4 linked regions of the Homo sapiens genome follow. The protein of the gene in region 2 interacts with the protein of the main gene of each other region in a pairwise test. Each region holds a gene or a part of one and is shown on either strand. Other genes may lie near its edges. The genes, in order: COBL, PACSIN1, JADE2 and SLFN12.

Region 1 (8,138 bases), on a different chromosome or scaffold from region 2:
AAAAAAAGTTGCATCCATAATGGTTTAGTTTCTAAATCTGTGTTAGACTGCATGGGCTGCCATAACAAAATATCACAGACTGCGCGGCTTAAACAACAAAAATTCATTTTCTCACAGTTCTAGAGGCTGGAAGTCCATGATCAAGGTGCCACTGCGGTTGGTGAAGAAAGAGAGAGAGCTCTGTTGTCTTTTCCTCTCCCAATAAAGACACCAGCCCTATAGGATCAGGGCCCCCCCACCCTTATGACCTCACTTAAACTTACTCACTTTTCTAAGTTTCTATCTGTAATTACCCTTACACTGGTTACAGTGACAGTTTCTACTCTAATTACAGTTATATTCAACTTATGAATTTTGAGGGGAAACAATTCGGTCCATAACACATTCAAAATAAAGATCCTTTTGGTATCTAAATTTGCATTAATCATATGGTATGCTTTATTTATTTAAAAGGTCCTTACAATTTTGTAAGATTCAGGCCCTTTGAAATCTGGATCCACCCCTGAATATTCTCATTTTAGAGAGGAGGACACTAAAGCCTAGAGAGAAGTAATTTGCTCTCGGCAATACCACCAGTGAGTGGAAGATCAGGCCCGAAGATGCTCACTGTGTTTGACCCTAAACCCTCGCTACTCAAAGCGTGCTCCCTGGGCCAGCAGTCTCCACTTCCCTGGGAGCTTGTTAGAAACATAGACTCTCAGGTCCCAGCCAGACTCACTGCATCACGAACTAAATCTTAATAACATCCCAAGAAGTATCCACGTTTACGAAGCCCTGCTTTAAACTGGACTGCTTCCATCTGTGTCTTTGATGTGCTTTCTTCCTTTCATTTTCCCTCCAGAAAGAGCAGCTGGTGTGACTGCAGGCACCCACCTCGAGTCATGGAGAGCTGAGTGTACGCCGATGGGGGCTGTTGAGACCCCAGGTGTGCCTGGGAGGAGAGTTAGGAGCAAAGAAGGGGGATGGGGTTAGACCAAGGAGAGAATGTCCTTCAAGTAGCCTTACACCCTGGTCTCAGGGTAGCTCCTACTGCTTGGGGCAAGAGCTGATGCCACTGTAGTCCAGAGCTATAGCCAAGGGCACCCATTACAGCCCATATCAGGACACAAGCATGGTGTCCTGGGACAAAGAGCAGCACTCAGCCATGCTCTGTGGATGAAGGGGCAAAGGTTCTGCTTTCACGCATGTGGGAAGGCAAATCATGGAGAGTTGCGGTCTTGCTGCATCTTCTGTAACTCCCTGTTCAGTGACTTTACAACACCCTAGCTTGAAATCTGCCAAGGTGCGTTTACACTACAAAAACTGGCAAATGCTACAAATAGGGGCTCTTTTTAAAAAAATTTAAAAATATCATTTGTAAGCATTTATCAGCACATCCCTGGATGTTTGCCACACTATAAAATATAGATGATTTAGTGATGGTCGACATCTGAAAAAGTGGCTGAGTGTGGTTGCTCATGCCTGTAATCTCAGCACTTTGGGAGGCTGAGGTGGGCAGATCACTTGAGGTCAGGAGTTTGAGATCAGCCTGGCCAACAGGGTGAAACCCCATCTCTAATAAAAATACAAAAAATTAGCCGGGCGTGGTGGCAGGCGCCTGTAATCCTGGCTACTTGAGAGGCTGAGGCAGGAGAATCGCTAGAACATGAGAGGTGGAGGTTGCAGTGAGCCGAGATTGCGCCATCGCACTCCAGCCTGGGCAACAGAACGACTCCCTCTCAAAAAAAAAAAAAAAAAAGTGACAGTTTTAATAAGGACATTTAAAAGCATGTGCAGGAAAGAGTCCATAAAGAACACCTTTCCCTTTGAGTTTCCCTAGCGTGTGATTGTGCCATTTGCTCTGCTGAAGTCAGTAAGCACAGGAAGGAGTGCGTTCTGCTCAGTGACAAGTGGTAGGCTGATCTTGGTGACATCCTCTACAAGGCCCCACTCAGCCCTTTGCTTTCAGCCCATCACCTATTCCTCTTTCTCACTGTCTGTCTGGAAGAGCTCAGCCCTGTCTGTTACTGATTTCCTTGCCTAGCCCTCCCTATGAGGTGGCCACATCCACACCGCAGACAAAGGCTGGCATACAGTAGATGCTCAGAAATATCTGTTGAACTATACAATTTTGGAAAACAACTCCCCACAGTTGCATCTCTTGGGGCCCTTATCAGTCAGGGAAGTGTGGGTGGCAATATGCACAGAATCTGATCAGGTCCTAGGCCCCGCCTGCCCCCCCAGGCTCTGTGCCCCTCCCCACAGTTGACACAAGTGATCGGCAGTCCTGGCCCATTTAGATTGCAGGCCCTGGGTCACAGCGTGAAGCTCCTCCCTCTGGCAGAAGTCTGACCTTTACTCTGTGTCTCATCCTGACAGCTCTAACCAGGCTTAACCCTCCACTTCATTTCTGGAAACTGGTCCCTGTTGGGTTTCTGAGTAGATGTCTGGGGGCCTTCCAAGGATCTGAGGTTGTCCAGGCCTAGGGTCACCTGGGCCTTTTTCCTAGAACAGCAAGTTGCATCTTGGCCTGGAGGTGGCACGTCACCTCCTTCTCATTGTTTTTCTGGATGTTGAGGAGCTCTCTTACTCTTCACCATCCACCTGCTTCGGGCTTCCTGTTGCCATCTGTGCTCAGCATCTGAGACACTGGGTCACTCCGGGCTTCTTTTGCTCCATGTCCCCACCATACTTCCTCTTGCTGCCTCTGCCAGGTGCTTGGAGTATGTGTCACCTGTGAGGTGGACTTCTCCTTAGGGATTTCAATGGGGTCTGGCTCACAGTGCCTAGTCTAGTTTTCAGCTCTGGCCCCTCCTGGGCAGCCCTTCCCATGGTGGTGTCCAGAGCAAGGAGGGGCTCCCCAGATTTTGGGAGAGACTCTCTAATACCCACACCCAAGGTGCAAGAAGAGATTCATTCATTCAGTGCACCCTTTGTTTACTGAGCACTGACTCCACCCTGCTAGGCACTGCCCTAGATGCTGGGGGTGATAAATCAGACAAAGGCCCAGCGCTTGCTAAGATCACATGCTAGGGAGGAGACCAATGGCAAACACATGAGCAAAATATATGCGGAATAGGATATGTTATTTATGTTTTTTATTCCATTTATATATAATGTATATACATATTTATAAGTTTACATAAATACAAATTTTATGCATTCATATAAACATGTCTATAAATATAACACATTACATGTAAACATTTCTTTATAAACTTACATTTAAATATAAACACACACATATATACACACATACACATATACACACACACATATATATATACACATACACACATACACACACACATACAGTGACAAATGCTCAGAAGAAAATTAGGACAAGGCAGCAGTCAGGAGCTTGAGTGAGAGCTGCTTTTATTTTGTGTTTTAAGACAGGATCTCACTCCATTGTCCAGCCTGCTCCCCACTCGCCGCCCCGCCCCGTAGCTGGGATTACAGGTGTGTGCCACCATGCTCCGCTAATTTTTTTATTTTGTAGAAAGTTCTCCCAGGTTGCACAGGCTGGTCTCCGACTCCTGAGCTCAACTGCTCCTCCGGCCTTGGCTTCCCTGAGTGCTGAGGTTACAGGTGTAAGCCACTGTGCTCCGCAGGGTGCTTTTAGACAGAGAGGCCAGGAAAGGCTCCTTGGGGAGACCACGGGATGAAAAGGAGGAGGAAGAGCACTGTGGAGCAGCATCCCAGCCAGAGGCCCTGAGCCGGGAAAGCGCTCCACTCATGGGAGGCTGGGCTGCAGGGAAGTGAGCCCCAGGGCCACCTGGGGACTTAGGAAACCTTCTAGGTGGGAGCAGGGAGCACCCAAGATCTGCCAGCCACGAGTAAGGACTCACATTTTGCATATAGACTGGTCTGCCCCCCCTTCAGTTAATGAGAAAGCAGGGGATCAGAGGGAGGAAGGCTGCGCAGGCCTCTGGATACCTCATCCAATGACAAGATCGCAAGGGGAGCGTCACCCCCAACGCTATCAGGCTCGCCCGATCTGGCCTCTTGTTGGTCTTTTATTCGAGTCATTGAAACCATATGAAACTGCCACTTTTATAGGTCAGCCCATCATACCAACCAAGATCTTAGAGAGTGGAGGTGAAGTTGGGCAGATAAGGGACCTCTGGCTGACTTGCTCTGGGCCCCGGCGTGGCCGGCAGGACCTGCATATCTGCCCGCCAGCCCGCACTGGAGTGGCAGGGTTGTGCCACAGTAGCGCCCAGTGAATCAGGTTGGCAAACTTAAGCGAGCATTCACCTAGAGCGAGTGAGTTGTTAGCAAAGCGAGGCCGCGCTCCAGCCCGCACTGTTTCTGATTCCGTGGGACCTGGTGGGCCCCAGAAATCTGCATTTCTAACAAGTTCCCAGGTGTTCCTGACGCTCCCGGTCGGGACTCCCACTTTGCGACCCTACGCACTAGACATTTGCTGCACGGATAAAGGTCAGAGAGCGGTGCCGGACACTCACTTCTCACCCTCCAACGTCAGTCCTCCCGGGCTGGTCCGCCCACCTCGCCCTCGCACGGCCTCCAGGCTCCAGGTGGTTCCCCTCCCCCAACTCCGCCAGGAGGCGCCGGCCCCGGGATCCCCCACTCCGCCCAGAGAGGGTCGCGCTCCCCCCAGGGGTGGAGGAGCACGGGGAGAAGCCCTCTGCCGCACCCGCGGGTGTCGGTGCAGGGCCCAGGTGCCGGAGGATTCCTTCCCCGGACGCTCGCCGCGGGCCGGGTCGGGACTCTGAGCAGGCGGGGCGGGGCGGGGCGGGGGCGGCGCTCCGGTGGGCGCGGCAGAGCAGCCGGGGCGGGGGCGCGGCGCACCTTGCTCCCGGCGCCCCCGCCCCGCGCCGCCGCCAGCCCCTCCCTGCGCTCCCGGCGCCCCCGCCCGCTAGAGACGATTCCAGCCCCTTCCGTCCGCCGCGCTCCGCCGCTGTCCTCCGCCGGCCCGCGTGGGAGGACGATGGGTCAGCGCGGAAAAAGTGAATGAGGGCGGCAGCGGTGGCGGCGGTAGCCAGCGCCTGACTCGGCGGGCCCGGAGCACCGCCCGCGTCCCGGCCCCCGGCACCATGGACGCGCCGCGCGCCTCGGCGGCCAAGCCCCCGACCGGGTAAGCGGCCCCGCGGTCGGGCGGGGTGGAGAGGGGGCTTCCCTGGGCTCGGACGCCCGCGTCCGCACCGCGCGCTCCCGGGCAGGGCGCCCTCTCTGCCGCCCCAGCGGGTGCTGGTGGTAGTGGTGGAGCAGGTGGTGCGGTGCTGGTGTTGGGTGCTGGTGTTGGGTGGTGGTGCGTGCTGTGTACTTTGGGCACCCGGGTCGTTGCCCAGGTAACCGTGTCGGGCCGGGGCCGGAGCGCACTTTTCGCGCGGGGTGGTTTGTATGCAGGCGTCCTTATGGGGGTCCCCGCCAGCACAGCCCCCACTCAGCTCCGAGCTTTCCTCAGGCCCCCCAAGTGTTTGCCGTAGGGGTGGAGCGGGGAGCGAGGGGACGCCCGGCCTTTGACTCCGGCCTCTTCCCTGCGGGCTTGCCCCTGGCCGGTTCCCATCAAGTCTTCCCTCTCCCGGCCTCGGCGGCAGCCCCAGGATCGGCTCTCCCGGCAGCGTGGAGGGGAGGGCTCCCCGGCTTCGCAGCCGCCCGGGCCCCGCGTTCTCGGAAGGTGTTCGGATTGCCCGGAGGGTTTCATGGCAGCAGCTCTCCCTCCCTGCCTTTATTCCAGGGTCTCCCCTGGCAGTGGAAGGGGCGTCCTAGTGGGGCCAGGCCTGAGGCGCAGACATCCGTAGCGGACCCGCGAGTCTGGCGGCCCATCCCTGTCTTCGCGATTCCGCTTTTGCCCAAACCTCTCCCGGTTTCTGTTTGCTATCCCCACACCTTGCGTGCAGGGATTACACGTCACATTCAGGATTTGACTCTCAGAAAGAGTAATTTCCCTCAAACAGGACGAGCAGCCCTGCTCATTATTCAGACCCCGAGCCAGGTGCGCCGTGCTCATCCCGGCCAGCGGTGCAGGCTGGGCCGCGGGGTAGCGCGCAGTCCCGGTGGACTTTGTAGTTTTCAGCGCGGCGCGCCGGGGACCTTCGAACTCGCTCGCTCGCCTGGAGCAAATGTGTATGAGTCTTGCAAATGGAATGAGGGTTGGGGTGAGCCCTGCACCTGCTTACTGAATGGGCCCACTTTCTGCTATGGCAACTGGACTTGAAGGAGGCAGCTTTGGGGACAACAAATCTTTTTTTCTGTTACAGTTGTGTCCCACTGACTCACCCTGCCCATGTGCCCATAGGCGGGCGTGTTGCCCAAGTGTGTAAAAGACTTTCAGTCGGGCTCTTTTTAAAATTTTAAAGTTTTCCTTTAATGCCAGGAAAAGGTGAGCCAGGTTAGCAAATCAAATAATCCTGAAGCTGAGGAATGTTAAAAAGAAGTTTTCTTTCTCTCTCTCTTTTTTTTTTTTTGCAGTGCACTTACTGGTGGTTATATAATTCTCTTTGAACAAACAAATTCCCCAGAAAGAAAGTAAATGTGGGAAATCCTTTTTCATGGTAATAGGCATCCCAAAATAACAGGGAAATGTGAAACAGAGGTATCTTTAAATCTGTGGCTTTCATAGCCTATTAAATGAGCCTATTTAAGGACACTGAATTATTTTGTCACTATCACCTTATAAATAAATATGAAGACAGAGAGAACATTTAAAAGGCCGGCAAAACTGTATCCAAAGAGTATCTGTAAGATCCTTGAAGGGAGTCTAATGATAGAAGTGAAAGGACTTACCCTAAGAGCGTGGCACTCTTTTCAGCCTGGTACTGTGTGGCAAGAGGTAGTCGAGGGCTGGCCTTCTCAGGGCTTCCCAGAGCTCTGATTGGCTTTCATATTTGAATTGCAAAGTAAAACTAAGGATTTTTGCTATGGAAAACATGAAATTATTCCTGATGCATTCAGTTCTTTCCCTCACTCATATCCAGTGTCTAATTTACTTGTCCGAACATCTTTGTCCAAGAAATGTAGACATATTATTTTTAACTTCTATTGTTCTCACTTTGTCATTTGTTAATACTTTCAGTGAAGAAGCATCAAGAAAATGTTAATATCCTTATATTTTTTCAGACAAGAATTACGTGTTTAATAAGCAATTTTGTGTTCAAATCTGAGGAGATAAATGGTGTTAGGTCTTCGAATATTTTATATAATTTAGGTGTATGCTTGCTAATTATAAAGGTTAGATATTGCTGTGAAATTTGTGGCTTTAGTACATTATTGGTGGCAGGCAGATTCTGTTGGCTCTTCACTGAGATTACTCCTCTGTTCCCTGAGATTAAGGCAGTGTTTGCAGTGTGCTTGAGGGAAATTTGTTTTCCATCTGATTCTGCAACCGTTTATTATAAAATCAAACTTTCAGTAAGCCTCTGTCTTCCCACATGATAACAAACTGATGTGGTGAAGCTGTTGCTGTTGCTGAAACTACCACTCCTCCTTGTGTTGTATAGAAACAAGCTAGACTGGGTGCAGTGAATTAACGAGATTTCACCCTGTGGCCTACAAACGCTCTTCTAGAAGATTACTGAAGGGAGATAGGTTGGTGAATGTAAACTCACTGACTCTGTGTCTGGCTAAATTATTAACAGGTAGTTATTAGTTATCTTTGTGAAAAACACAAATATACGTTTTTACTTGGATTGAAATTGTATGTTTTTTACTAGGAATTTCATTAAAACAGTGATGTATGACTTCCTTGACTCCTGGGGAAAGTGTTCTTTTAGGAAAGAGGCTGTGTGCAAAAACTAACAAGTCAGACTTGATGTGACTTTTAGGGAGTTTTAGAGCTCAGTTGAAGTATAAGAATTGACAGAATACTCAGAACACAAGTAAAGGCAAATTGCCTTTTGGTGAGGTTTTGAAGTATATTTAACTCTCTACTTTATCTGTTTACTTTGCGTTTGTCTGAATATTTATAGGAGCCATCCCAGTAGTCGGCTGTTACAGAACACAGGGCTAAATTTCCCATTGGACCCTCTGTTAATAAAGGACAGAAGAAGGCTTGCTGTTTGGCAGGACCATGCTTAATTTTTTTTTTCCTATGGAGGAAAGACATGTTTCTGTAGAATACAGTAATCTCCAATGACATGAAATGTCAAAACAGCTGGTGCATTTGATCAATGGCTGTATTCAAGCAGTTTGCT
Region 2 (7,152 bases):
CAGACCTGTAGCCAGTTTCACTTCTCCAGGGAAGGCTTTCTACCACCAACTCATTCTTGCTGTGGGGATACGTGCAAACTTCTGAATGGGTCCCTCATCTCCTAATGGGAGACGAATGCAAAATATGTCCTGATATTGGTGAGGAGAGAAAGTAGATGATGGGACCAACAGTCACTCACTCCACAAGCCAGAGCTGGGTCTACTCTGTGCCAGGCCATGGGGCCACCGGAAACAGCACACAGACTCTGCCCCCACAGACCCCACAGCCCAGCAGGGAGAGGACACTGCATGATGGGAGGGTTCCCAGGGGAGGCAGCCAGGCTGTGGGGAGGGGATCATGGGTGGGGTTCCCAGCCCAAGCTGGGGAAGCTTCTGGAGGAAAAAGGAGTCTCAGTGGACTCCCGAGGGTGAGAGATTTGGGTGGGAAGGAAGAGGGAGAGGAGGAGACAGGAACAGCCTGTGCAAAGGCCTGCAGGTGACAGAAGCCCCACTTGCTTGAGGAACTGAAAGTAGCTCAGGGCAGCCAGGGGGCAGAGGGAGGGCAAGAAGGGAGAGTCAGCCTGGGTGTGGGAATGGTGGCAGAGCCACGTTAGGGAGACTGCATGGCTGTCAAATAGCAATGCGAGCCATTGTGGAATGAATGAATGATTGAATGACTGAATGTCAACTCTGGAAAATAGCTGGCAACCTGAGGGAGGGGGTTGAGTCCCTTCTTGGGCTTTCCCTCTATTCCCCAGGACCAAAGAGCCACCCAAACCAGACAGTTCTCTTTAGGCCCCTCCTAAGCCTGGAAATCTTGATGTCCTTCATAGACACAGGCCTGTGGCTAAGCCAGAACCCTTGTTGGCAGCCTCTTCCTCTGAAGTGGGTTTGCTCCTCCACACACTAGGGTCATGAGACCCCTGAGAGCTTGCTATGAAGACCTTAGAGGCTGAGGAAGGCCTGGCTTGGGCCTTCCCAGCTTCCCTGATGTTGACCTGGATTTTCCCAAGGGCTGGGACAGAGGCAGAGACTCTGGTCTAAAGTTGGCACCCCGGGAAGAAAGTGCCAACCCAGCGGCCTGAGGAGAGCCAGACCTTCACATCAGGCCTTCCCTCAAGCCAGGACCAGGCCTGGACACTCAAACCAGGGGCCCATAAGACCCTCTGGAGCCAGCAGGTTGCAACACTATCTCCAAAAGGCATAGCTGCCCATCAACTCCAGGCTTAGGAAGGGCCTAGCCGGGCATGATGGCTCAGGCCTGTAATCCTAGCACTTTGAGAGGCCAAGGTGGGCAGATCACCTGAGGTCAGGAGTTCGAGACCAGCCTGACCAACATGGAGAAACCCCGTCTCTACTAAAAATATAAAATTAGCCGGGTGTGGTGGTGCATGCCTGTAATTCCAGCTACTCAGGAGGCTGAGGCAGGAGAATCGCTTGAACCCGGGAGGCAGAGGTTGCGGTGAGCTGAGATCGTGCCATTGCACTCCAGCCTGGGCAACAAGAGCGAAACTCTCTCTCAAAAAAAAAAAAAAAAAAAAAAGGAAGGGCCTACTAAAGAGAACCACCTGGTTTGAGTGGAGTGGCTCTTTGGTCCTGGGGAATAGAGAGAAAGCCCAAGAAGGGGCTCGACCCCCTCCCTCAGGTTGCCAGCTATTTCCCAGAGTTTACATTCACTCATTCAATAAGTCATGCATTCCACAAGATATTTTCTTGGTGCCAAACCCTGCTTTGGTGCAGGGGCAATGACAGAGATGAATCAGATTCCCAGCCTGAAGGTACTTCTGGTCTAGAAGGAGATGAACAAGACAAATAACCCAGCCACAAGGCAGTCCAAGAACATAGGGCAGGGGGCAAGGATCTCACCTGGGGTATCAGGGAAGCTGCTGGAGGGTGATGATTTGGACTTGTGATAGAAAGGCCAGGATGGAGGATGGAAGCAAAATCACTGACAGACAGTCCTGTTTGCACCCCAGCTGTGCCAGGGGCTGGGGCAATGTGGGTTATTTATGGTTGTGCCTAGAAATAAGCGGCCATATGTGTCACTGCCTATGTGGTGCAGACCTGGGCTGTTGTGGGTAGGGGCAGCTGGGGCTTGAAGCTGGGTCTGGCCAAGCTCCCGGGTTTGCCACCATGTCTCCTACACCCTGATGACCCTTTAACCTTTTCATAGCCTCTTGTAAGGTGAAAATAAGGGGCAGAGGCAGCTCCAACAGGCAGCAAGTGGCCTGGGGCTTGCAGGGGAGGGCAGTGCCCAGCAGCCCATGGCTTCTGTATCTGCGGGGCCTTTTAGCATTATCGCCTCCTTCTTGCCTCCTCCCCCCTCCCCGCTCCCATCCCAGCTGTGGGGGAAGGGGTAGGGGACAGAAGGAAATACCTTTAACCATAAGCCAGACAGGCATCAGCTGCTGTGTTTCTCCCCAGCCCACTCTGATCCATAAATAGCCTATGCACCAAGCTGGCACCAGCCCACCCACCCCTTCTGGTAGCAGTCCAGAGACCCGGACCGCCCGGGCCCAGGCCCCAGCTTCCCAAGGAACCTATTTCCGGCGCTTTTCCTGGGGTAAGGGCCTCCGATGCCAGCTCGCTCCCCCAAGGGACCCAGCGCAGTGGCATCCTGGCACTGCCTGGGTGATGCCCGCGAACTCCGTCCCCTGAAGGCATCCCCGAACGCGCACCCGCTTCTCTCCAGGCAACTGCCCAACCCTGCCCGGGCTCTGGCCCAGGGAGATGTCAGTCCCGGCGCCCACTTCCAACACGCACTCCCTAACTGGACACCCGCACACACAACCCCCCCGCCCTCTATTCAAGGGCCAGACCTCCTACCTGGGGGCAGGAGCTCCGGGGACCATCGGCGGCGACTCGGGGCGAAGCGGGACGTCTGGGGCCCGGCCTCAAGCCCGGCCGACTTCCCGGGGGAGGAGGGGGCTGGCGCTGCCGCCGCCACCGCGTCGCTCTGGGATCTCGCCGGGGCTGCGGGAAGGAGGAAGGTCAGAGCTGAGGCGGAGAGGGGGGAAGGATGAGGAGGAGGCGTGCACCGAGCAGAGCAGATTAGAGAGGCATTTTTAGCGAGCCAATGGTAGCGCGGGCAGGGCGGCGCGGTGGCTGCGCAGGTGGACGCGCCGCGGCTGCCGGGGAGGCAGCAACCAGTTTGGCAGGCGCCGGGGGTGGCGGGTGGCGGGTGGCGGGTGGGGTCCGGCTCCCCGCTGCTTCAGCCGACCCCTGCCCCAGCAGTCTTGCCTGGCTCCCTCTTCTGGGGGCTGCCCGCGGCCCCGCGCGTGCCGGGAGCCCTCCGGTGCGCCCTCCTCCCCAGCCCTCCCAGCTGGCGCGCTCGGAGCCCGGGATGTTGCTCCCTGCCTCTCTCCCCATCTCCCCATCGCCTTGGCCTTTCCTCCTCTCCCGAGCCTCGGCGTCCCTTGGTGCGTGCGGGTGCCTGTGTGGTGGGTGTGTTGAAGACGTGCGTGTGAGCTGACTTGGGAGCGACACCCCCTGCACCACCGCCCCACTGATGCCCACCCCTGCCCGCAGCTTCTGCCCTGTGACCCCATGGGGCGGGATCGCTAACCCTCATGTCCTAGTTCCAGCAGGACCGGCTGTCGCCAAAGCAAACTCCAGGCCATGTCGTTGGAGCTCTCTAGGGGGCTTGGGGCCTAATAGGGGACCCTCAACGGCCTTCACTCTTCCGAACTTGAGCCCTGAATGCTGCCTGGAGCCTGGACGCTGCAGGGAGGAGCGGGGCACATACCTATTGAAGGCCTGTTCTGTATCAGGCACTGATGAGGGGCTGGGCTGCAGCAGAGGACAGAACAGACCAAAACTCTGCCATCTCATAGTTCACATGTGTGAGGGAAGATAGATACTCAATATCAGCAGCTAAGAGTGTTTTGTTTGGTTTTTGTTGTTGTTGTTTTGTTTTGTTTTGAGACGGAGTTTCGCTCTTGTTGCCCAGGCTGGAGTGCAATGGCACGATCTCGGCTCACCACAACCTCCGCCTCCCGGGTTCAAGCGATTCTCCTGCCTCAGCCTCCCGAGTAGCTGGGACTACAGGCGCGAGTCACCACACCCAACTAATTTTGTATTTTTAGTAGAGATGGGGTTTCTCCATGTTGGTCAGGCTGGTCTCGAACTCCCGCCCTCAGGTGATCTGCCCGCCTTGGCCTCCCAAAGTGCTGAGATTACAGGCGTGAACCACTGCGCCGGGCCAAGAGTGTATTTTAAAGTGGTATGCACAGAGTAGAAAAATAAAGCGGGAGCCAAGAGCGGTGGCTCACGCCTGTAATCCCAGCACTTTGGGAGGCCGAGGCGGGCGGAACACGAGGTCAGGAGATCGAGACCATCCTGGCTAAAACGGTGGAACCCGGTCTCTACTAAAACAAAAAATTAGCCGGGCGTGGTCGCGGGCCCCTGTAGTCCCAGCTACTCTGGAGGCTGAGGCAGGAGAATGGCGTGAACCCGGTAGGCGGAGCTTGCAGTGAGCCGAGATGGCGCCACTGCACTCCAGCCTGGGCGACAGAGCGAAACTCCATCTCAAAAAAAAAAAGGAAAGAAAAGAAAAAAATAAATAAATAAAAATAAAAATAAAGCCGGAGGAAGGGAAAAGAAGTGAGATTGCTCAGGACCAGAATGGGTCCCTGCCCTTTACATGTGTAGGGATTGCGGGGTGGGGGTGGTGGCTGAATTTGAATGTGAGCCCCTCAGGTAGGCATGCAGACTCTAGTTTGCCACAGAGCTCCCTATTGTTTGAGCCTGGGATAATCACATGTTTATATTTCCTGACTTCCCTCTCCACACACTTCACGAGAGGCACTGAAATTCATGCCCCAGTGACCCAGGGCAATGCCTGAATGCAGTATTTATTCGTGCAATAAGAATTCTCTGAGCACTGACTGCATGTTAGGTGTTGGAGCCTGGGGGAACTCAACACCTAGCTGGGGAGGCCAGATGGTAGTATGTACGTCAAGGCTGACCAGTGCGGCTAAGTGAGTGGACAATGTTCTGGAGAAGGTCAGTATAAGGCTCTGGTTTAGGCCATCCAGGAAGGCTTCCTGGAGGAGGCAGCATTCCAACAGGGTGCCAAAGGTTTACTGGGATTCTGATGAGCCAGACAGGGCAGGAGGCAGGGATGGATTGCTGGGAAAGGTCAGCAAAATGCCAGGGGACATTTGGCAAGTGGCTAGGACTGGGTCGTGGAGCACTGCTGGACACCCTCTGTGCAAGGGGTATGCTGTTTGTTTCAGGCTGGTGAAGCCCCACCCCCCACTCCCACTCCAGCAGCTCCTGGTCCTAGCTGCCCTTACCTCAACCTAGAATTTCCCAGTAGCCCCAGAAGGAGGTGTGACAAGCATGTGGGTGGGTGGGGGGAACATCGACTTCACTCAGTTGCTTGCTTGCTGGGTGAACATGGACAGGTAACTCAACCCCTTGAGATTCAGCCTTTTCATCTTAATAGCTGTGTGGCAAGTTGCTTACTTGATCTGTTCCTTGGTTCCCCGGCTTGGAAAATGGGCATGGCAACAGCACCTACCTCACAAGACAATTAGGTGAACTGCTTAGCACATACGTACTCAGTTAGTTTTGTTGTATTGATGATGATGATGATGATGATGATGATGATGGTTACACTTGCCTCATAGGGTTATTGCAATTAGACAAAGAATGTTAAGTCACCTAGTATAGTGCCTGGGACTTAGTAGGTGTGCCAAAATAATGGTATTATTATTATCATCAACTACATGCACCCCAAAATTTCTCCCTTTCTGGTCTACCACAGTGGTATGAAACACCCCTCTTTAGACAGACCTTTTTTTTTTTTCTTTTTTCAGACAGGGTCTTGCTCTTTCGACCAGGCTGGAATAAAGTGGTGCAATCACAGTTCACAGCAGCATCGACTTCCTAGGCTCAAGCAATCCTCTTTCACCTCAGTTTCCCGGATAGCTGGGACTACAGGCGCATGCCACCACACCTAGCTAATTTTTAAAAATTATTTGTAGAGACAGGGTCTCCCTATGTTGCCCAGGCTGGTCTCGAACTCTTGGGCTCAAGTGAGCCCCCCACCTCAGCCTCCCAAAGTGCAGGGATTACAGGCATGAGCCACCGTGCTTGGCCTACGAGGACTTTCTTAATGTAAAGAAGCTAATTCCCCAAGAGGCTCTTAAAAGACAATCTAGGATGGATGGACTAACAATTGGCCCCTCCCCTACTAATACATTAGCCTGGCTCAATGTGTCATCAGGAGCTTTGATGTAGACGGAATGAAGCCCAGGCCTGGAAGGTTTTGAAAAGGCAGTGAAGTCCAGAGCACAGGACACTGACTGAGAGAGGACACTCGATGTTCCTCGGCAGCAGGCATTCGGTGGAGGATGGCAAGAGCAGGAAGAGGACGTTCACAGGGGACAGGGTGTAATGCAGAGGGCACAGGGAGGACTCTGCCTTCCCAGGGGCGGAGCCACTTGGGGACAGTGTGGAAGGGCAATGGCTGGTCAGACCTGATTGGGCAGAGGTAGGGAGAGGGAGGAGGTGGGTGGGGAGAGGGGTGAGGGAGAAGACTGAGCTGGGCTTACTCCTTTAGGAGTTGAGGCTTCCCTAAAGCTGAATTCAGACCTTAGCAGCTTCAAGCCCCGAAAAAATGAGAGTGGAACACACACACACACACACACACACACACACACACACACACACACACCCCTGTCCTGTGTAATCTAAAATAAACTGTTATTTTAGGAATTGACACAACTTCCATGCTTCCTAAAATTAAACTAGCTTTCTTCTAGATTTTCTGTCGGTAAAACTTAACGTTCATCAAAGATAAACTTTCTCTCTCCCTCTCTCTCTCCTCTCACCTCTTTCTCTTATTGTTTTGTGCCCCGCTCAGAGAATAAGACTTTCTCCCTTTTGCACAGCACTTTTCACTTTTCAAAGCACTTTTCACATCTTTTTTCTCCTCAATGCACTTTTTTTTTTTTCTTTTTTCCGAGACAAAGTCTTGCTCTGTTGCCCAGGCTGGAGTGCAGTGGCACAATCTCGGCTAACAGCAGCCTCCGCCTTCCAGGTTCAAGCAATTCTCCTGCCTCAGCCTCTGGAGTAGCTGGGATTACAGGCACGCACCACCACGCTTGGCTAATTTTTGTATTTTTAGTAGAGATGGGGTTTCACCATGTTGGCCACGCTGGTCTC
Region 3 (7,332 bases), on a different chromosome or scaffold from region 2:
GCCAGCCATTTTATTTGAAATGTGAAATGTTGAAATGCACCAGAGTTTCAGCCCCAGCCCTGCTGTGTGGACTGACTCAGATTGAGGCCCCACTCCAGTGTTGCCTGTGCCCAGAAGCAAGCCAGGTGGCCCTGTCCATAAGTGGCACTCTCCTTCCTGGGCTCACAGTCTGAAGCCCACAATGCGGGCTTCTGTGATAACAGTTGTTTGTGTCAGCAGTAGGCACTTGCTTGCAGATCAGCATGTTGAAGACTGGGACCACCTCTGAGTGTACCCTGGGCTGGGCATGGCAGAGACAGAACCAACAGGGACTCCATCATGAAGACCCTTTGGCTCAGGACCTTTGGAGAGAATTGCTTTTTCCATCCTCAGGCATTAGCAATGGGGAGACAAATGTGCCCTGCCTCTGGGCTGTGGGGTGGTCTCTGCCCAGTAGACTTGGGCATAGTTGTAGGGCTGTCCCCATAGGAAGGGCTCAGCAAAGGCATATCCCCAGGAGAGCCCTAAAGACCTTCAAGAGGAGATCCCACAATGAGGCTTTTCTTGGTGCCTAGAAAAATAAGTAATACAAATACAAATCGTAACAAGAACTCTGAAGATGTTATTAACAAAGGCCTGAGTGCAGAAAGAAGGAGGATCTTGCATGTACCTATGCGCACACCAAAGCACCTGTCTGTCAAGGCCCACGCAGTCTTAAGCACATACACACAGTCAACTACACACACTGACGGCACACTCACACATTCACAGACAATTTAAGATTAGTCTCAGATGAGCACACACTAACACACTCATCCAGTGGTGAGCTTGGGAGAGTGAGGAGGAATTCCGGCCTTTGAGCCATGCTTGTTTGGTGTCAGGAGGGACTTGGGATTCAGGGGCTCAGCCACTGCCCTGTCTGCCCACCACCTAGTTTCAGCAGACAAACCCCCATTTTGGAGATCCCTGGAGGCAGGCTGGGGATGAGAGGAATGATGCAGCCCCCTGTGTCCTGCCCAGGTCAGCATCGGCTGCCCAGAGAAGATGGAGCCCATCACCAAGATCTCGCATATCCCAGCCAGCCGCTGGGCTCTGTCCTGCAGCCTCTGCAAGGAATGCACAGGCACCTGCATCCAGGTATGTGGCCTACTTCACCTCCTGCTGCCAGGAGCTGGCTGAGAGGCATGCTTGGGGCCTCAGACAGCAGCTGCCACCACCTTCTCCCCTCCATGGGGCTGCAGACTGATGGGCCCCAGAGGGGTGTGGGACTGGGGCCAGAGTCAGAATCGCACCTGTTGGGGAGCATTTCTCCATCCCCTGGTCTTCTAGGGAGTGGGAACAGACCCGGGGAACCAAGGCTCACCACCCCATTGGAGTGCTGAGAACTCTGGCTTTCCCTGAAAGCAAGTGTCTTGGGGCTTGATGAATACATTAGCCTCACTTCTGACATTGAATTTGACGCGTTAGGGGTTAGGAATCAAACTTCTCATCTAGCTAAGCTAATAGACTGTCCTGACACTGGAAGGGCTGTACCAGTCTGTCTTTAGCAAAGCCTATTCCCAAAGTCTAGCATGCGTCAGAATTACCTGGAGGGCTTGGTAAACATAGACTGCTGGGCCTACTCCTGAGAGGCTCTGACTCAGTAGGTCTGGAGTGAAGCTGAGAACTTGCATTTCTAACAAGCTCCCAAGGGATGTTGATGCCTCAGGTCTATAGTTTGGGAGTGCAGGGGGGAGTCATCCTTTGTCCCCCTCATCTTTTAGGAACAGAGTTGTCATTGTAAACGTTAGTTGTGCCTTCACCCATCCACGGACCTTCAAAAGGATTTGTGAGTGCAGCATCAGCAGTCATAATAGTTGGGTGCGTGATTGCTGACACAGTTATCATCATCCAAGGCTAAGAGAGAGGGTCAGGCCTCAAGCTGTCTGGATGAAAGGAGAGGGAAGGGGACTAAGTCCAGCCCCTCTTCCCAGAGGACAAAAAGGGGACCACAGTCCCCATCTTAGATGAGCCAGTGACCCATCATCAGCCTTTCTCTTGATGCTCTGTGATGCCAAAGTCATTTTGCCCACACAAAAATGCAGCTTGAGGCCAGGCACGGTGGCTCACGCCTGTAATCCCAGCACTTTGGGAGGCCGAGGCAGGTGGATCACCTGAGGTCAGGAGTTCGAGACCAGCCTGGCCAACATGGCGAAACCTCATCTCTAAAAATACAAAAACTAGGTGGTGCATGCCTGTAGCCCTAGCTACTTGGGAGGCTGAGGCAGGAGAATCGCTTGAACCTGGGAAGCGGAGGTTGCGGTGAGATGGAACCACTGCACTCCAGCCTAGCAACAGAGTGAGACTCTGTCTCAAAAAAAAAAAAATGCAGCTTGTCCCCAGAGGTGTTTCTCAACCGTCTTCTGATTGACTTCCCCAAAGCATGTGGTGTTGAATGGGTTACCTTTCCAGGCACCCCAGAGCTCCTCCTCCTCCCCTGCCGTAACTCCCATCCTGCACAGGAGGTTGGGAGCCCATGCCATTCTGTTTAGGTTCTCTCCAGCATTGCGCATTCTCAGTAGAGCCCTGGGGGAAGCCCCTCTGTCTTCTCCCCTCCCACCAGGCTCCCTCCATGTCTGATCCTGCCCCTCCTTTCCCCTCAGTGTTCCATGCCTTCCTGCGTCACAGCGTTCCATGTCACATGCGCCTTTGACCACGGCCTGGAAATGCGGACTATATTAGCAGACAACGATGAGGTCAAGTTCAAGTCATTCTGCCAGGAGCACAGTGACGGGGGCCCACGTAATGAGCCCACATCTGAGCCCACGGAACCCAGCCAGGCTGGCGAGGACCTGGAAAAGGTGACCCTGCGCAAGCAGCGGCTGCAGCAGCTAGAGGAGGACTTCTACGAGCTGGTGGAGCCGGCTGAGGTGGCTGAGCGGCTGGACCTGGCTGAGGCACTGGTCGACTTCATCTACCAGTACTGGAAGCTGAAGAGGAAAGCCAATGCCAACCAGCCGCTGCTGACCCCCAAGACCGACGAGGTGGACAACCTGGCCCAGCAGGAGCAGGACGTCCTCTACCGCCGCCTGAAGCTCTTCACCCATCTGCGGCAGGACCTAGAGAGGGTGAGTCCCCATGCCGCCTGCCCACCCCCTGCCTGGTGGGTCCAGGAGTCCTTTCCATGCCACACTCACTGCCCTGGAGCAGCTAGGACTCACCAGGACTCAAACTGTGAGCTCTGGTGGACCGGCCCTGCTGCAGGAGCCTGCCAAGGGGCTGAGGGCTTTCAGGTCCCAAAGAGTATGGGGGTGACTGACACTTTACAGAACAGAGAAGAGTCCAGTTCTTGAGTCTCCGAGTCCCTCTTGTCCTAGCCCTGTCACAGGCCTGGTGAATGGTGGGGGCCCTGCCAAGGTCATGAGGCTGAGAGCACCAGAGCTAGGGCGAGGACCTAGGCTTCTGGCACTTGCTTGCCTCTGTGGGCCCCGCCTGGTCCTAACACATGAGCTTGCATTGAGAATCTGAGGCAGAGGAGGAACTGGAGCTTCCCAAGCTGTCCCCGTAACCCATGCTGAAAGCCAGGGGCATCAAGAGCCAGGAGCAGCCAAACAGGCACGTGCCGGGCCAGGGCAGGGTAGATGGGTAAACGCGGCTCCGTGGGGTGCTGGGCAAACAGAACAGAGGCACGAAGGAGACAGGGTGGACTCAAGGAACGGTGGAGTGGAAGGAAGAGGTGAAAGGGGCTGGTGGATCGCACGAGACTGGGCTGGTGGATCACAGTGTGTCTGGAAGCTGCAGAAGTGCTAAGGAGGGACTGACATACTGTGGCTGGGACTTGCACCCAACACTCCCTGGAGGAGAAGTCCCAGAGTCTGGAATGGGTGGGCTGGCTGAAAACCACCCCCAGCTGTGTGCTGGGAAACAGGTGACGGTGGCTTGGTCCAGGGGGCTGAGTGAAATGAAGCAGGATTTCTGGATCCTTTTCCAGTCCTCTGAACCCCACAGGCTGTTCTGGTCTCTCCTCTCTGGGACATTTCTAGGGTTCCAGAGCATATGGGACCGTGTCACAGTGTCTCCCCTGGGTTCAGACATACATGCTCACCCTCTCCCTGGGTCCTGTCAGGAAATAGCCCTGGGCAGGAGCATGCAGGGAACGTTGTGTGACCCAAGGCGCCTGCTTTTCTTATCTGCATCGCAGTGGGCAAGGCTGTAAAATGGGTAGAACATCTCCAGGGGTGTTGTACTGTCAGGGAAGGGGCACTGGACCCAGCTTCCCCAATCCCCTCCTTCCCACTCATCTGCGCTGCCTGCTCAAGAGGGAAATGACCTATTGCCCCCAGAGAGCCCTCACTGCCTGGCAGCCAGCTTGCCACCAGGCCAGAAGGAAGAGGTGGAGGTGGGAGGAACCAGATGTCCCTGGCTCCAGCCAGGACAGAGGGCAAGGCTACCTACATTGCAGCCACCACCTCCTGGCCAGCCCAGCCTCCTGTCACATGTGGCAGGGGCATCAGGTGTAAGACCTTCTGGGACCGAAGCTGCTTCCAGAGTCTTCTTTAGGCCACCATGTCTCCACCCGCTGGATCTCCAGTGGAAACACCTGCTTTTACTCCTACTGTTTCCCAAACAACCCCTCAGAACTGACCTCTCTGTTCTGTGCTGGTCAGCCCATGTGTCTGTCCCTGGCTGGGTTGTCCAGGGAGGTCAAGGGCTTGACTCACTTATGTAGTCATCATCCTGGAAAAAGAGACTTGAGGAAGATCCTCCCAGCCCTGCTGAGCAGATGAGGAAACTGGGGCTCGGAGAGACGAATAACAGGAAGTCTTAGAGGAACTCCATTCCAAGGGTTTTGAGCTTGAATTTGGACCTCAGTCGGGGGCAGAAAAGGAGTTGTTGGCTTATTCTCTATTCTGTAAATTTCCTGGGCAAAAGCATCCCTTTTTCAGTCCCCTAATCTTCCCACCCCAGTGTTGGCTGGTTCAGGTGGAGCCTGGGGCTGAGGTTGGCGGGCTCTGGGGTTCCGGGGAATGAGAGCTGCTGCAGAGACTCCTGCAGTGGGAGCCAGAACACTCCAGAGTCAGGTGTGAACCGTCCCACTCCTCCTCTGGGAAGAGGAAGCAGGGCCAATTTTGAAGTATGTGCAGCCTCTTACGGCTCAGGGGGCCCTGTCAAATGCTGCTTTCTGAGCAGCCACCAAGCTGGGCTGGCGGGCACCAGCTTCAATGAGGGCAGGGGCATGCACAGCCCTGGCAGGGCCGAGGAGGGACAACCATGAGCCAAGCTGACCCCCATCAGCGGCCCAGCCTCAAGGCCTTTCCAGGTCACACATTTGCAACTTGGGTGAATGAACAGCGACAAGAACCCTGCCACGGGGCAGGCTTTCTGCAAAGGCCCATGGTGGTTGGTGGCCTGGCCAGCGGGCCCAGTCTCGGACCGTGGCCCAGTGCCAGCAGCCGGGAGTATCCAGCCTGTAACTGGGCACTAAGCCAGCCTGGGCAGGAATCATCGGAAGATGGGGCAGGGCTTGAGGTCGAGGCCTTGGTAGCCTGACTTTGCATCCAGTTCCTGCACTCCCAGCTCTATACCTTCTTTGTTTCAGTTTCTACTTCTCTGAGTTTCAGTTTCTTTGTCTGTAAAATGGGAATAAGGATCAGACTGACCTTGGGGTCACAGTGCATGTGGGGGACAAAGCTTAGCACAGTGCCCTCCATTGTTGGCCGTGATTGTTGTTACTGTCCTGGCCCCTCAGCATTTGGCTCTTAGAAGAAGGGAGGCCAGCCCGTGCGCTCTGAGGGTGGGCTCCACAGAGGACCAAAAGGGCAGGCCCAGTGCTAGGGCCTGGGAACCCAGCATCCTCCCAGATTGATTCGTTCCTCCTCAGCCAGGCAGGGGTTTTGCTGAGAGAAACAGGAGCCGGGGCTGCTGCCGGCATGAAATCCCATTTTATGGTCAACCAGATGTGCTTTCCTAAAATTTCAGCCTTGGGCCTCGGCCCCAGCGGACGCTCGGAAGGCATGGCCACTGCAGCCTCCCAGAGTTATTTACGGCTGACAAAAATCGCAGCACTGTTGATCAGCCCGACAAGTGCCGGCTGGTGTCCCCTAGCAACCGTGCTGACAAGCAGGCTGTGCAGGGACTTGCTGCTTGTGGCTCTGGCTCTGGTCACCAGGAGTTTATTTGGGAGCCTGACCTGGCCTGAGGAGGAGGCCAAGAGGGTGGAGGCGGCTCTGAGACACACACCTGCCCAGAGGATGATATGGGACAACTTCCCAAGGAGGGAAAGGCTCAGAAGGAAGTGGGTCCTGGCCTCAGTGCCTGGATGGTGGTCCCTTTGGCCTCCCACCAAAGCCAACCTTGTCCTGGGCAGCTCCAGCCTGCAGACCTCTGGCTCTTCTGCCCCTGTGCCTTCCATCTCTAGGGCTCCCCCAACCCATTAGTGCCCTTGCCTCACCCAAGCCCAGTCACCACCTCCAGCTGCTCCCAGGTCAGTAGCCCAGAAATTGCCACATCCTGCTCCGTGCCTGCAGTCTACTGCTCTCCCTGCTCACTTGTCTCCCAGGCCCTCCACCCTTCTTTGTCCTGCTTTCTTCACTCACTCCCTGTATGGCACTGGCCTGCTATGCCCCAGCCCTTGTCCCTCACTGAGGCCAGAACCCTGGCAGAGCCTCACCCAGTAAGAGCCACTCCCTCCACCAGGAGAAATCCCATAGCGCTGAGCAGGGCAGTCCCTGCCGCACACCCCACCTCATACCTGCTGCCCACATGCTGAGCCCTGCCTCCCTCAGGACAGCGTCCCCTCTGTCCTCATACCAGGGCCTCTAACTTCTGCCAGCCGAGCCTCTCGGTCCATTCTCTTCCCTTCCCTCCTGTCTTCCTTCCCCCACAGGGGCTCTTTTCCAGCCCACACCTGCAGCTGACGAGTCTGTCTTTTCTTCATCCCCTCTGCGGGTCCTTTTCCACCAATATTTGAATCTGTTCAACCCTCTCTCATCTTCAAAAGCGAATCCTCCCTCCCTATTTCCCTCTAGTCGTGGGTTCCTCCGCTCCCACCCCCATCTCTCCTTTCCTGTCATCCCTCATGGTATTTGCATCCTTGCTGCCCACTCTGGCCGGGTTTCCGCCACATCCCAGAGCCTGCCACCTGGGCTGCCTGCAGCCTCCCTGCCCACCTCTCCATCCCCCGATCCTCTCAGCAGCGGCTGCCACAATCAGACCTGCCCTTAGTCTTGGAGTCCTTTTTCTGTGATGCTCTGACCAGGTCCCCCCTGAGGTCCTGGTTTACCCCCCTCCCTCTCTGGCTGCTCCTTGGCCTCAATGGTCATCCATTGCTCTCCCCTGACTGCTCACTCCCAGGGCTGGAGACCTCAGGCTCCA
Region 4 (7,332 bases), on a different chromosome or scaffold from region 2:
AAGCCAATTATTTCTTTATCTTCATTTAAACCAATGAACAAATATCCTCCATCAGTATTTGCAAATGCAGAAACATATTGAGGGAGAATCTCTTTAATTCGTTGTAACAACTTTTCTGTCGAGAAGTTTTTAATTTCAACATGTGTGGATTCAGTAAAGGTCAATTTTTCTTTCCGATCAAGTTCTGTTCTATCAAAAAAAACCCCGGCCAAGGCCTTCATGTTATTTTCTTCTTGTATATCAACACAGGGCCTCTTTGCCAGCAATTCTGGTCTTAAATACAATCTCCCTCTAGTCTTTTTCATGTCTTTGAGGAACTCCAGTGCAGCAGTGGCATTCATGACTTTTGCAGATGTTATATCTCTTTTGTACAAATTGGAGCTCAAGGTGGTAATCCGCAGACCAGAGGTGTTCAAGCTCCATGACTTCACAAAAATCAGAAAGTAGTTACCATTCTGCATGAAGTCTAAGTACTCAGGAACAAATAACAGAATGTTACTAAAAGAATTTTCCAAATCTAGTCCTATTCCATCTTTTGTATAACTATAGTCTTCATTCTCAATTTCAGCCTTGATCACTCCCCCTCCAGAATTGAGCAGAGCACACATAGCTCGTGAGACACTTTCATTCTGCTTTTTTCTCAGTTTACAATCCTTCATTTTTTTCCTACTGTTCTCTCCAAGAGTGACTCTTCCCACATCTAGAACCAACTCGGCATAATTCGTTTCCAAATCAACACTGATGTTCATTTTCCCAGCAGCTATGCAGTGTCCAAGCAGAAATTCTTTTCTGTAAAATAGACAGAGCCATTAGAATAGGACCTGAACTAGAAAGATAGCAAATTCTGTATTATGAGGCAAATGCAAAAAAATCCTGTGCTGTATATATTCTACTAGACTGGTAAGTATATGGATATGAAGAGACTGGCAAATTTTGAGCTAAGACCGCAATAATTTATACTCCTACTGAATTTTCAAATTTGTTACTATAGTTCTATATAATGTATTCTAATTATGTAATCTCTTTATCCGCCTTTTTTCTCCTTTCTAGTCCCTAATATTGTACAACCTGTTTTCTCTCTCCTTTTCTTAAACAACCCCTGGAGTGAGTCTATGTTTTTATCTTCTCAGTGAACCAGGCTTTAGTTATACATATTATTTCTACTTTTCTTTTTATTTTAATAATTTCAGCTTTTACCTTAATTATCTCCATTTATGGGTATAAATCTTTTGGAAGATTTCCCGTTAAGGTCTAATGACATCCAACATGTCATGTTAATTATTTTTCCTTCTTATAAGAATGAAATAGATTTATAAATTTTGGCCATTGATCTTAAGCAAAGTGGGCTAAGTCATTGTGCCCTTTTTAAATCTAATATCCACATATTTTCAATAAGGAAAATTCTTATATACAAAACACCTGTGCTATGGTTTGAATGTTTGTGTTCCCCCAAAATTCATATGTTGAAATTATAACTCCTGAGGTGATGAGGTTTTTGGGAAGTGATCAGGTTATGAGGGTGAAGCCCTCATGAATGAGATTAGTACTCTCCTAAAAGGGACCCCGGAACACTAGCTCATCCCTTCCACTATGTGAGAACACAGCAATAAGTAGGCAGTCTGCGACAGGAAAAGGGCCCTCACCAGAATCCAACAGTGCTGGCACCTTAATCTTAAACTTCCCAGCCTCCAGAACTGTGAGTCATAAATTTCTGTTATTTGTAAGCCACCCAGCTTGCGGTATTTTGTTATGGCGGCCTAAACAAACTAAGACATTGTGCTTTAGTCTATGTATCCCTAATCCATTAGCTCTGTTCCCTTAAAATCTATTAGGATCACTGCTTTGCTCTAAATGGAAACTTTTAAGTTAAGAAGTGTAACTTAAGTTTAACTTTTTTTTAAGTGTAACTTAAGTGTAACTTTTTAAGTTAAGAAGTGTGACTTAAGTTTAACTATTTTTAAATGTAACAAGTGTAACTTTTAAGTTAAGAAGTGTGACTTAAGTTTAACTTTTTTTTAAAGTGTAATTTAAGTGTAACTTTTAAGTTAAGAAGTGTGACAAGTTTAACTTTTTAAAAAAAGTGTAATTTATGTGTAACTTTTAAGTTAAGAAGTATGACTTAAGTTTAACTTTTTTAAAAGTGGAATTTAAGTGTAACTTTTAAGTTAAGAAGTGTGACTTAAGTTTAACTTTTAAGTGTAACTTAAGTGTAACTTTTAAGTTAAGTTAATAAGTGTAACTTAAGAAGTGTAGGTTTTCCGAGTGGCATAGAGACAATTGAGAATAAAGTCCATCATAGGTAGTAATTGCTATACTAGAAAAGGAATGTAAAGGGGGTCAGAATATTCCTGTCCACAGCTGGACCAATATCATGCAGATACTCAGCTAAGGTTGTGGATACCACCTGTGTCCATATAAATTCCTGATCACATGTAAACAATGTTAACATTAGAGCCCCAAACCATTTGGACAGTTGGGGTTGAATCCTTTAGTTCTTTGTCCATGTTTTCTCTTAGCTCTTTGAAGATACTTAAGACAGTGCCTGTTTTTTATTTTATTAATTTATAAATAAAATCCTATATATTGATCATGTACAATGTGTTTTTTTGAAACTTGTATATATTGTGGAATGGCTATGTTGAGCCAACTACCATATACATTACTTCACATACTTATCATTTTTTGTGGTGAACATTGCTACTATTTTAGCAACTTTCAAGAATACAGGCCCAGCACAGTGGCTCATGCCTATAATCCAAGCAGTTTGGGAGACTGAAGTGGGAGGATCACTTGAAGCCAAGAGTTCAAGACCAGCCTAGACAACAAAACAAGACCACATCTCTACAGAAAAGTAAAATAAAATAAGAATTGGCTTGGCACAGTGGTTTGTGCCTATGGTCTCAGCTACTTAAAAGGCTGAGGTGGGAGGATCACTTGAATCCAGGAGTCCAAGGCTGCAGTAAGCGATGATCATGGCACTGCACTCTAGCTTGGGCAACAGAGAAAGACCCTGTCTCCAAATAAATAAATACATAATAAAGAATACAACATATTGTTAACTATAGTAATCATATTGTACAATAGAGCTCTTGAACTTATTCCTCCTATCTAACTGACATTTTGTAACCTTTAACCAACATTTCCCCAAACCCCATCTTCCCCCAGTAACCACTATTCTACTCTATACTTCTATGAGTTTAACTTTGATAGATTCTACAAATAAGTGAAATCATGCAGTATTTGTCTGTCTCTACTTGGCTTATTTCACTTAACATAAAGTCCTCCAGATTCATCCATGTTATCAAAAATGACAGGATTTCCTTCTTTTTCTTAAGGCTAATTAGTATTTTATTATCTATATGTACCACTTTTTCTTTATCCATTCATCTGTTGGTGAACACTTAGGTTGCTTCCATATCTTGCCTATTGTGAATAATGCTGCAATAGACATGAGAGTACAGATATCTCTTTGATAGACTGATTTCATTCCCTCTGGATATTTATCCAGGAGTGAGGTTGCTGAATCATATGGTGGTTCTTTTTCTTTTCTTTTCTTTTCTTTTTTTTTTTTTTTTTTTTTTTTTTCAGAAACCTCCATACTATTTTCCATAATGGCTAAGCTAGTTTAAATTCCTACCAATAGTGTGCAATGGTTCTCTTTTCTCTACACCATCTCTTTTTATCTCTTGTCTTTTTTATAATAGCCATTTTAACATGTGTGAGGTGATTTCTCATTGTGGTTTTAATTTGCATTTTCCTGATGATTAGTAATGTTGAGCATTATTTCATATATCTGTTGTCCATTAGAATGTCTTCTCTTGAGAAATGTCTATTCAGATCCTTTGCCCATTTTTTAATCTGTTTTTTTTTCTTACTATTGAGTTGTTTGGGTTTCTTATATATTTTGGATATTAACCTCTTATCAGATGTATGGTTTACAAATGTTTTCTTTCATTCTGTAGCCTATTCTTTTACTCTGTTGATTTTTTCCTTTACTGTGCAGAAGCTTTTTGGTTTGATGTAATCCCATTTGTCTACATTTGCTTTCATTGCCTGTCCGCCATTGGGATGACATCCAAAACATCACTGCCCAGGCCAATGTCTTGGATCTTTTTCATATATTTTCTTCTAGTAGTTTTATAATTTCAGCTATTACATCTAAGTCTTTAATCCATGTTGAGTTGATTTTTGTATTTGGTGTGAGATGAGGGTCTAACTTCATTTTCTGCATGTGGATATCAAGAACGTTATTTTAAAATCTTTGTCTAATATGTCTGATGTCTGGCCTTCCTCAGAGATGTGTTCTGCCAATTTACTTTCTTCTTTTGAATAGGTCATATTTTTCTGTTGTGTGTATGCTTTATGAATTTTTGTTGGAAATTGGACATTTGAAAAAACAGCGATCTCTCACAGTCTTTGCAGACAAATGCTATGGCAAGGCAAACCTTCAGTGATGGGCTAAGTATACTCTGATCTTAGGGATCAGCTCAAGGAAAAAGCTTAAGGTCTTCTCAGGTCTTTTCTGAGCATTTATCCTGCCTGGATTGAGCGGGGCTTTCTTGATTCCTCTACATACATGCCTGCTTTTGAATGTCTTAATTTCCCAAAGAATCTCACCCCAGCTCATCTTCTGAGCCTTAGATGGTTATTCTATGTCTCTAGCTATAATCTCTTGCCTAAGACATCTGGGGGTCTATAGTCTTCTTGCAGCTTTCCTGAGCAGTGGCTGTCACTTCTCCTCACCTGAGATCTGAGTTAGGGGATACAGAAATGAATCCTTCAGGCAGTCCCCAGACAGGTTACAACATTGAAAATAAGTTTTACTATGCCCCACCAATTCCAGGGAGGAAACTAGGAGCAGTGATGCTGCCTCCTCAAGACTAAGACCTTGCCATGCAGGGCAAAAACTTGGGCAAGGGTGAGTAAAAACACCATGAAATTTCCTACAGTTTTGAATGCTGCTTTTCCTTGATTGGGCATTCATTTAGTTGCAACAGATCTTTGTTGTTAGTTCAGCCAGTTTTGGGTTGCTTTTGATGTTTCCATGGAGAAACAGAGTTGAAGCTTCCTAATCCACTATTTTTCTGACATCATTCCTGTCACCATTTCTTTATATTAAACGCAATTCGATAATATTTTTAAGATTTTGCACCCATGATGTCCCTTTCTCCTATTCTTGTTGACAGACAATGCAATCAATAGCTTCACAAAATGAGTTGAGGATGTGAGCTGTATTTCTATTATTTCACATTTTACCCAACATGAGGACCTTTTTGCAGTGGGAGAGTTGGTCATGGTTGGCCATACTGCCCAAAACGAAAATATACTATTTGAATCTTGCTTTTCCATGTATCAATATAGTATATACAACAAGTTTTGCAAAAATAATAATTAGCTATTCTTTAAAAACCTTATTAACTGCATAATTTCATACATGGTATTAATGTACCATTATTTAACTATTACCTTACAACTGAACATTGAAGTTGCTTTCAATCATTCGATATAATTATACTAGAATCTTGACTCAGTTATTTCAATGTTTGGGTATGCTAATCACACAGTCTAATTTTCATTGAGTCTAAGAGTGCCCTGGCAAAGCACTTCAATTATATATACAGATACGGTTCAGATATATACAAAGATGGTTAAATCGAGTATGGGAGGCCAGAACATGTAGACAGAAAAGAAGCCAGATTTCAGGATATAAGAAATGGAACCTTGAAGGGGAAAAATTATGTAAGAGAAGAAAGAGTCTGAATCTGTGGAAATAAAGGTTCATGGTGAAACATAAGGTTATATTTGAACCTGTGCCTTAGGTACATAATTAAGCTGAAATTATGTAAGTATATAGAGTGTATATATGTACACACAGAGAGAGACAGAAGTTTGTAAAAGTTAAATTACTGTATCAAGTGACAAAAACTTCAAAGATTTTGATATATATTATCAAATACTTTCCCAAATAATTGTATCAGAATTATCGCTAGCAAATTTATCTTAGTGGTGATTACAGCACTTTGCCTTGAACCTTTTGGGGGGAAGAGGATATGGTATAAAAGCTACTGGAAAGCATCTTAGTGGGGATTACAGAACTTTGGCCTGTACCTTTTGCGGGGAAGAGGATGTGGTCTAAAAGCTGTTAGAAAGCATCTTAGTGGGGATTACAGAACTTTTCCCCTGTAATTTTTGGGGGTAAGAGGATGTGGTCTAAAAGCTATTAGAAAGCAGCATCTTTCCCTCAGTGTTTCCTGAAAACTCAGAGAGAACAAAGAGAGGCTGCCTTCTAAGAGATATTGGACCTAGCATTCATTCAAATAGGCTCCCTGGGCCTGGGTCCATAGAAGAAAGCATTTGCATATGACCCAGGGAGATTCCAAAAAAAGAGAACCTAAGTGGGGAGGACCTGACTCCTGGTAGTTGAACAAGAGTGAAGCCAGGTAAGCACAATCATTGAAGTTTAAATTTAAAACTCAATAGTAGTCTCAATGTGGCATAATTATGCTAGAAAGCAGAGGAAGATGTATATCTCTGCCATGCTGAGCTTTCTCCTTAGTATTATAGCACAATTAGTGTTCTTTAGACCCAATTTCTTCATATTTCTTGCACATGAGGCTGCCCCAAAGGCAAGTCCACCTTCCCTGTTGACCAGACAGAAGAGATTCTCCATCTCTACCCACAAAGGCTGCAGGAGAATCAGTTCCACTTCTACCCAGGCGCACAGCCCCAGCCCTACAATTTTCTGGTAATGCCTCACCAAGCAGCCTCTGCTCTGCTCCCCGATTCTTTTTTGCAGCCTCTCTAACTAGAGTCTTGTCCCCTTTCCTCTTAGCCCACCTTTCTGCACTGTCTACATCAGGCTGGGCTCTGTGTAAACTTTTTTGCCTAACCCACCATACACAGAAGGGGACAGAAATCACATCTCACCCTCAGATTGATTAAGGAGGGTGCTCATACCACTGAGAAACTTGGAACCCATGGGAGCTGCAGTTGAGCCACCTTATAGAGGACCCAGCGCTTGTGAACTAGCCTGGGATCCCGGTCACCCCAGTCCAACATCTGCAGCTGTGTAAAACTTTCCATAGTTGAAAATCACTGCCTTCAAGCATACATCTGGGACAAAACCCTTAAAAAATGAGCTGGGGATTGAGCTTACCAAATCCCTAGGGCCTAAAACTTACTGGCCTCCCTTAAACCTTGGGTCTAGGTTTACAGGTTAGATGTTTCCACTGAAATCCTTTATACTTTTGACTATAGGGGAAATTCTATCAGACCTGAACTCACTATTTAGGCTTTGTTGTTGGCTATCTTTAATGGGAAAGGAGACAGCAT

The links.
Region 1: the proteins of PACSIN1 (region 2) and COBL interact in binary tests that used the Homo sapiens proteins (3 or more experiments, as listed by UniProt).
Region 3: the proteins of PACSIN1 (region 2) and JADE2 interact in a two-hybrid assay, tested with the Homo sapiens proteins (2 studies listed by BioGRID and IntAct).
Region 4: the proteins of PACSIN1 (region 2) and SLFN12 interact in binary tests that used the Homo sapiens proteins (3 or more experiments, as listed by UniProt).

Annotation. Positions count from the first base shown.
Region 1 is NC_000007.14:51,313,535-51,321,672, reverse strand, and holds the start of COBL (protein cordon-bleu), read left to right. Parts: upstream 1-4,863; 5' UTR 4,864-5,039; coding exon 5,040-5,080; intron 5,081-8,138.
Region 2 is NC_000006.12:34,461,924-34,469,075, reverse strand, and holds the start of PACSIN1 (protein kinase C and casein kinase substrate in neurons protein 1), read right to left. Parts: upstream 3,001-7,152; 5' UTR 2,806-3,000; intron 1-2,805. UniProt on the Homo sapiens protein: Plays a role in the reorganization of the microtubule cytoskeleton via its interaction with MAPT; this decreases microtubule stability and inhibits MAPT-induced microtubule polymerization.
Region 3 is NC_000005.10:134,563,495-134,570,826, forward strand, and holds part of JADE2 (E3 ubiquitin-protein ligase Jade-2), read left to right. Parts: intron 1-999; coding exon 1,000-1,116; intron 1,117-2,621; coding exon 2,622-3,086; intron 3,087-7,332. UniProt on the Homo sapiens protein: Scaffold subunit of some HBO1 complexes, which have a histone H4 acetyltransferase activity. Acts as an E3 ubiquitin-protein ligase mediating the ubiquitination and subsequent proteasomal degradation of target protein histone demethylase KDM1A.
Region 4 is NC_000017.11:35,422,280-35,429,611, forward strand, and holds part of SLFN12 (ribonuclease SLFN12), read right to left. Parts: intron 790-7,332; 5' UTR 750-789; coding exon 1-749. UniProt on the Homo sapiens protein: Ribonuclease which is part of an E2/17beta-estradiol-induced pro-apoptotic signaling pathway.